Linked DNA regions of Homo sapiens. The gene in region 1 interacts genetically with each later gene. Each region holds a gene or a part of one and is shown in the gene's direction. Other genes may lie near its edges.

Region 1 (3,813 bases):
CCTGTTACCACCTAATTTCCCCTTAGAAAAGAATAATTCACAAGTTCGCAAGAACAACGTGGTATCTGGGATTTGCTTTAACTTACTTCAGAAAACAAGAGAGAGAGTAGATGAGACAAGAGTGGCAAAACTTTGGTAGTTCTAAAATCTGAGCCAGGCATGGTGGCTCACGCCTGTAATCCTAAACTTTGGGAGGCCGAGGTGGGAGGATCACTTGAGTCTGGGAGTTCAAGACCAGCCTGGGCAACATATAAAAAATAAAAAAATTAGCCAGGTGTGGTGATACACACCTGTAGTCCCAGCTACTCAGGAGGCTGAGGTGAGAGGATCTCTTCAGCCTAGGAGGTTGAGGCGGCAGTGAGGCAAGATCGCACCACTGCATTCCAGCCTGGGCGACGGAGCAAGAACCTGTCTCAAAAAAAAAAAAAAAAAAATCTGAATGATGTGTATATGATGATTCATTAGACTGTTCACTCCGTTTTTGTGAATGTTTGCAATTTTTCACAATAAACATTTTACTAAAGCTCCTAGGTTAGAAATAGAATTAACAAAAACAAAAAGCAAAAAAAAATTAAATAAAGCATATTGCTCATGAAAACCTATGACCAGTGTTTACAGAGCTTGATATAAAATGTCAGACTTGTGGGAATGCAAATATACTTGCATTTACTTTTTTTTTTTTTTCTTGAGACGGGGTCTCACTCTGTCACCCCGGCTGGAATGTAGTGGGGTGATCTCAGCTCACTGCAACCTCTGCTTCCCAGGTTCAAGCGATTCTCCTGCTGCAGCCTCCCGAATAGCTAGGACTACAGGCACACGCTACCATGCCCGGCTAATTTTTTGTATTTTTAGTAGAGATAGGGTTTCACCATGTTGGCCAGGATCTCTTGACCTCGTGATCCACCCACCTTGGCCTCCCAAAGTGCTGTGATTACAGGCATGAGCCACTACGCCTGGCCCTACTTATAATCACCTATGGTGATAATCTAGGCAAAACTCTTATCCTTTGAGGAAGGGACTATAGAAATAAATAATTATGAACTTCCTAACTGTACTTCCATGGAAAATAAATTCTTTGCCTTATGCTTTTCATATACAAATAGAGATTTTTTCATGCTATTACTAATGATATAATTTTTCTGTAATTGTAATTAAATTCCTGATATGCAACTGTATCGTTTCTTTGCTTTAGGGAAAAATAAATTTAGACTCTAAACACAGGCCATATTTTGTTCTCCCGTCTTTCAAACTGACATATCTTCCTTGCTAATGTCTAACAGCCAAATTAATAGCCAGTGATAAACTATCTTTATTTATTTTTTTTAAGAGATAGGGGCTAGCTGTGTTGCCCAGGCTGGTCTCAAACTCCAGGGATCAAGCAATCCTGCTGCCTCAGCCTCCTGAGCAACTAGGACTATAGGCATGCAGACCACTGTACCCAGCTTGTATCTTTTTGTGTGTAGACAAACATTGATTCAGGAAATGGTAATCATTGTCATTATTTGCTTTTGATTTTTTGCTAGGTTTGATGTAGGCCCAATTCTCAAACAAGAAACTGTTCCTGTGCCACCCAAGAGCACTGCAAAGGAATTGGAAGCAGTGTTGTCAAGACTGGGTGCCAACATGGTATAATTCCCCAATATCCTACTGCTTTTTACTCATTTAGTGGGTTTCCTAAGTGGTTATAAAAAGAAGAACAATTTTGTGACTTCTAATTTTCTTAAAAACAAAAAAGAGTAATTTCTATCTTTGGCTTCCTAAAAATTAGCCTGGCATTTGTGATCTCATGTAAATCTTTGAGAATTTACAAAGAGTAAGTACTGAATAAAGGCTTTCAAGTGAAACAGGTGATCTTACATGACCTACTACATGCCATAGTGAGGTCTTAGACTATTCTTCTCAATTTCACTCTCCGCACTCTGGTATGTATACCTTGCATCCCTGTCAGAATGAACTAACAGCAATTTTCTAAGCGACTCTTAGCTTTCCTTCCATTTCTTTGCCTGGCTTCAGTCATTTGCACTAGAATTCTGCTGACCATTCTACCTATAGATGATCCTTCTTTTTTCTGTGGCTTTGTATATATAATTCATTGAAACTGCATGAGTAGAGTCTGGGTAAATGTTTAATGACTAAACTTATGTTTTCCATATGAACGGGTTAATTTTATACAGAGGAATATTTTTTTCCCACCTGTAGAGATGGTATTTCCTATTCTAGGCACTTACCTCACAAATGATCTTATAATAGTGACTGCCGTTTATTGAACATTGGCTTGTGTTCTACAACTGTTCTAGATACTGTATGGACTTTTTCTTTTTACCCTCTCAACTTTGAGGTAGTTGTTGCTGTTGATTGTTTCACAGATGATGACATTGAAGGCCAGAGACAAGCTAAATAACTTTTCCACAATGAGACAGCTGGTAGGTGGTAGAACTAGGACTTGAACCCAGAGCTGGGTGACTCCATAGTACATTGTCCTGTGAGGTTTCACTGCCTTGGCCCCCATGGGGTGAGAGTGTGTATAGCCAAGCCCGGGCTATCCTGATGCCAAAGCTTCCACAGCATTCTCTAGAAGTGAATCAATGACCTGTACTCTACAGAAAGCAGAATCTCTACTGAGGTTTCCCCAAGTAGACACCTATCCTCACAGCTTAAGCCAATGTACTACCTTACCCTGCCACATAGATCTTTTAAAGTTATAGGTTCAGCCTTGAAGAGCCAATAGTAAAGATTTTTTTTTTAATTTGAAAAAAGAAAAAGAAAAAAAGTTATAGGTTATTTCATGGTGCTGAATTGTAATGTGTTTCTGCTTTTGTTCTTCCCTTCATTTTGAATATATCACACTCTTTTTTTTTTTTTTGTAGCTCATTTCAGTTTTGAAAAATTTGCCTGAAAGTCTGAGCAATGGAAGGCAGCAGCCAATGGAGGGGGCGACTTACGGTGAGTGAAGGCTGCAGAGACTCTCATCTTTCTAAAGGTTCTGCTTGTCACGATAGCATCTGAACATTCTGACTTCTTAGCTGTACTTTTCCCTTAATTTTGATTGAGTGCCCACTTTTGTGTGCTTTTCCAAAGAATGGTAGAAAGCATTCTTTCTCCCTCTTAGCATATAGCCTCATGAAGGATTGAGCATTTTTTTCCAACTTCTTGATTTTGAAAATATTAAATAGAAAGACTGGTATAATAAACACCAGTTTACCCCAGAGTCAACAATTATTAATGTTTGTCCATATTTTCTTTCTCTTTATGTATTTATTACGTGTATTTTAAATTCTGCTTATTCATTTGGAAGTATGAATCATGATCTTTCATCTCTAAGTAGTTTAGTATGCCTTTCCTAAGAAAAATGAACAATTTCCTGATAGCATCCAATGTTCAGTTCATATTTAAGTGTTCCTAATTGTCTAAAAATTTATTTTATAGTTTTATTTTTCAAACTAGGATTTAATTGTAATTAGTTGTTATGTCTCTTTAGTCTCTAAAAAAAATTCCTCTTTTTTTCCTCTCTCTATGTCATTGACTTTTTGAAGAGACCAGGCCAGTTGTTTGATTTGTTTTCTTCCAGTGTTGTTTAACTTGTTCCCTATCTCTTATATTTCCTATAATTAGTTCTAAAGGTTTGGCTGGATTCAGGCTTAAAGTTTTTGGAAAGAGTGTGTTTCAGTGACATTTGTTTTCTTCTTTTTTGTTTTTTTTAGTAGAGTTAGGAGTATAAACATTTGTTTCAGTTTGTTTTTAATTTTAGGGATTACTTTTTATTTTTCTTTATGATTAAATGTTATTTTTTGAATATGTAAAACATATAGCTGA
Region 2 (3,813 bases), on another chromosome or scaffold:
CAGCTAATTTTTTTTTTTTTTTTTTAGTAGAGACGGGGTTTCACCATCTTGGCCAGGTTGGTCTTGAACTTCTGACCTCGTGATCCACCTGCCTCAGCCTCCCAAAGTGCTGGGATTAAAGGCGTGAGCCACCGCGCCCGGCCAGCACGCTTCTTAATCAGCATGCAGGCTGTGACATGCGGAAACCAGGGGCACAGGCTCTGAAGTTTGTACTCTGGAGCTGGAGCAGTCAGGGTTAAATGGGAGCGGCTGGGAAGGGTGTGTTTCCACGAGGCCTTTCTGATGTCTCAGTGCCCAGTCTGGACCCGGGTAGAAGGTGTGGCCAGTGCCTTGAGTCAGTGGAGCAGTTGCCTGTGCCTGGTCTCTGTGAGATGGGTTGGTCAGGGGCTAGGCAGAGCCTGTGCCTGGTCTCTGTGAGATGGGTTGGTCAGGGGCTAGGCAGAGCCTGTGCTGGGGGTAGCAGGTGCCCTCTAAAGGGGCCAGTGACAGTCTCTCTCCCAGCAGTGAGAAACCCACGCTTAGGGGCCGGGCGCGGTGGCTCACGCCTGTAATCCCAGCACTTTGGGAGGCTGAGGTGGGTGGATCGCCTGAGGTCAGGAGTTCGAGACCAGCCTGGCCAACATGGTGAAACCCCATCTCTACTAAAAATACAAAAGTTAGCCGAGTGTGGTGGCGTGTGCCTGTAATCCCAGCTACTCGGGAGGCTGAGGCAGAACATTGCTGGAGCCTGGGAGGCGGAGCTTGCGGTGACCCGAGATCGCACCATTGCGCTCCAGCCTGGGCGACACAGCGAGACTCTGTCTCAAAAATAAATAAATAAATAAATAAATAAATAAATAAATAAATAAATCTGGCTTGAGTTTTGACAAATGTATATGCAGGGTCAATGGGAAGACAGACGCTGGAGGGTGGAAGCCTGACTGTGAGAGTGAGCCCCCTGCTTTCCTGAACAGTCAGTGGAGGAGGTCCTGGGAGCTCAGGTGAGCACCTGAACGGTAGGGCAGAGCCTGAGGGTCTTGGTGGAGACAGGCAAGAAGGTTGCAGGAACCTAGTCTGGCCCAGTGCCTGGGAGAACGGGAGGGAACACGGAGGCAGGGAGGCAGAGGGGTTGGCAGGACCTGGACTGGACTGTGCGTCGCAGCTACCCACAGCTTGACCCCACTGCCTTGAAGTGAGTGATGCACCCTCACTAGTGTTCAGCGTCCAATTTCATCCTGGCCCTGAGTGTGTAACGGCTTTGCCCTTGCGGGGCCCCCTGGGATGAGGGGTGAGCCCTGTCCCTTCCTGGTCACTGTCTGCCATCAGGAGCTGCCCCGCTTACAGCTGTGATTCAGGAGCCACTGCATTTCCTCCAGCCCCCTGGGTGCTGCCAGGGGGTCCTCCTATTCTGGGAGCTGGTGTGTTCTGACTGGAGGCTGCCATGTGCAGAGTGCTGTCAAGGAGAAGGGGTGTCCACTGCCCAGCCCTGAGGCCCAAGGCCTTGGCCAGCCTTGCTGCCAGCGCTGCAGGGAAAAAGCCTCCTTTGTGTGTGGGAAGTTTAATAAACTCCGCTCAGATTGTGTCTCGCAGCGAGTGTCTGGAACCTTCCAGACAAGCCTCAGGCGTCCGGTCCTCCAGTTGGTGTGGAAAGCGTGGGCGATCACCAAGGGGGGTGGGTTGGGGCAGATGGAGCCGGCGTGAGTCCCGTCTCTTCCCTTCCTTCCCAGAAAGGCAGCCCTGGAGTCCATGCCTTGTCCCGCTCTCACCGGCAAAAAGTATAATCTTATTAGAAATAGGAAAGTTCCAAAAAGCATCAATGAGTTAAAAAGAGGGCTGGGCATGTTCGGTCATGCCTGTAATCCCAGCACTTTGGGAGGCCAAGGCGGGTGGATCACCCGAGGTTGGGAGTTAGCCTGACCAACATGGTGAAACCCTGTCTCTACTAAAAATACAAAATTAGCTGAGTGTGGTGGCGCACGCCTGTAATCCCAGCTACTCTGGAGGCTGAGGCAGGAGAATCACTTGAACCCGGGAAGCAGAGGTTGCGGTGAGCCAAGACCATGCCATTGCACTCCAGCCTGGGTAACAAGAGTGAAACTCCGTCTCGAAAAAAAAAAGGGCTGGGGCCGGGCGTGGTGGCTCACGCCTGTAATCCCAGCACTTTGGGAGGCCGAGGCGGTTTGATCACAAGGTCAGAAGTTTGAGACCAGCGTGGCCAACATGGTGAAACCCTCTCTCTACTAAAAATAGAAAAACTAGCCAGGTGTGGTGGCACATGCCAATAATCCCAGCTACTTCATCTGAGGTCAGGAGTTCAAGACCAGCCTGGCCAATATGGCGAAACTCCGTCTCTACTACAAATACAAAAATTAGCCAGGCGTGGTGGCGCGCGCCTGTAGTCCAGCTACTGGGGAAGCTGAAGCAAGGAGAATCGCTTGAACCTGGGAGGCGGAGGTTGCGGTGAGCCGAGATCGCATCATTGCATTCCAGGCTGGGCAAGCCTAGGAGAGAAGAGCGAAATTGTGTCTCAAAAAAACAATTAATTAAAATAAAATCAGTGCCATAGGCTGTTTCTGGTAGGCAGTGGGTTCCTAGGGTGGAGCAGGGAAGGGCTGGAAAGGGTCGCCTGTGCCCAGCCCGACTCCCCGTGCTTCTCGGGGGACAGCACGGCTAGCTGCTGCTGCGGAGCCCACAGTGGGGTTCTGGGGGGGGGGGTGCAGGCAGAAGGCCGCCATGCCTCCCTCCCCCTTTCCACCCCAGTGAGAGTGGGCTCGAAGGCAGGGAGTCTGCCCGCCTTGTGGAGCCTCCGCAGAGGCACCCAGGGCTGCCGTGAGCGCACAGCCTGGCGGTGTCCCACGGCCCTGCCCTTTCCTGTCACTTCCACCTGTTGCAAAACACTGTGCTTTCGTATCTTTTCTTTCTACCTGTTTGGAAATGTGAAAATCACTGCTGCCGTAGGAAACGGGCCCAGATCCGGGCTGTGGCTCTCCCATCCGCACCGCCCCCGCGGTGTCCAGCCAGGAGGTGGGAGGTGGGCGGCACTCAGTGTGCCTGGTTGCGGCGATGATTGGCAGATGCTTGGACCTATGGTAAAGAGGATTTTCGCGAGCTGGGAGTCAGTCCTGGACTTTGTAGGTCTTTACATCCCAGGCGGCCTTTATGGGGTTCCAGCATCTGCTGAGGCCCCTGCGCCAGCCATGTGAGGCCTGGGTGTCCTCGAGGCCTCTGTTTGTGCCCCTCTCTGGGCAGCGGGAGGGAGAGCTCTGAGACCCAGAGGGAGCTCAGGGGCTGGGCAGCCGCAGAACAGCGGGGGTAATGGGTCCACTGGGGGTTCTGGGCTGTGCACACAGTGGGCTTCCGGTGCCCAGCCAGCTGGGGCAGGCCTGGAATGTTGGTTCCTCTCTCAGGATCTGGGGCGCTGCTGTAGCTGTCGGGGAATCAGTGAGGCGGCTGGACGGCCCGTATATCCCACAAACGCCACCGTATTGCTCAAACTGGACTCAATTTTCTTAACACCTTTTTTTTTTTTTTTTTTTTTTTTTTTGGAGACAGGGTCTCACTGTATCGCCGAGGCTGGAGTGCAGTGGCGCAATCATAGCTCTGGGCTCAGGTGACCCTCCTGCCCCCAAGGTAGCTGGGACTGCAGATGTGCACCACCACACCCGACTAGTTTTTTGTAGAGATGGGGTTTCGCCATGTTGTCCAGGCTGGTCTCAAACTCCTAGACTCAAGCTATCCGCCTGCCTGGGCCTCCCAGAGTGCTGGGATTACAGGTATGAGCCACTGCTTCGCCACGTTCACCTTTATTTACTTATTTATTTATTTTTGAGACGG

Evidence for each region.
Region 2: changes in MTFMT (region 1) and STK11 together harm fitness more than expected from each alone (negative genetic interaction), as found in Homo sapiens cells (one large-scale study listed by BioGRID).

What each region holds. Positions count from the first base shown.
Region 1 is NC_000015.10:65,019,327-65,023,139, reverse strand, and holds part of MTFMT (methionyl-tRNA formyltransferase, mitochondrial), read left to right. Parts: intron 1-1,523; coding exon 1,524-1,626; intron 1,627-2,867; coding exon 2,868-2,943; intron 2,944-3,813. UniProt on the Homo sapiens protein: Methionyl-tRNA formyltransferase that formylates methionyl-tRNA in mitochondria and is crucial for translation initiation.
Region 2 is NC_000019.10:1,208,778-1,212,590, forward strand, and holds part of STK11 (serine/threonine-protein kinase STK11), read left to right. Parts: intron 1-3,813. UniProt on the Homo sapiens protein: Tumor suppressor serine/threonine-protein kinase that controls the activity of AMP-activated protein kinase (AMPK) family members, thereby playing a role in various processes such as cell metabolism, cell polarity, apoptosis and DNA damage response.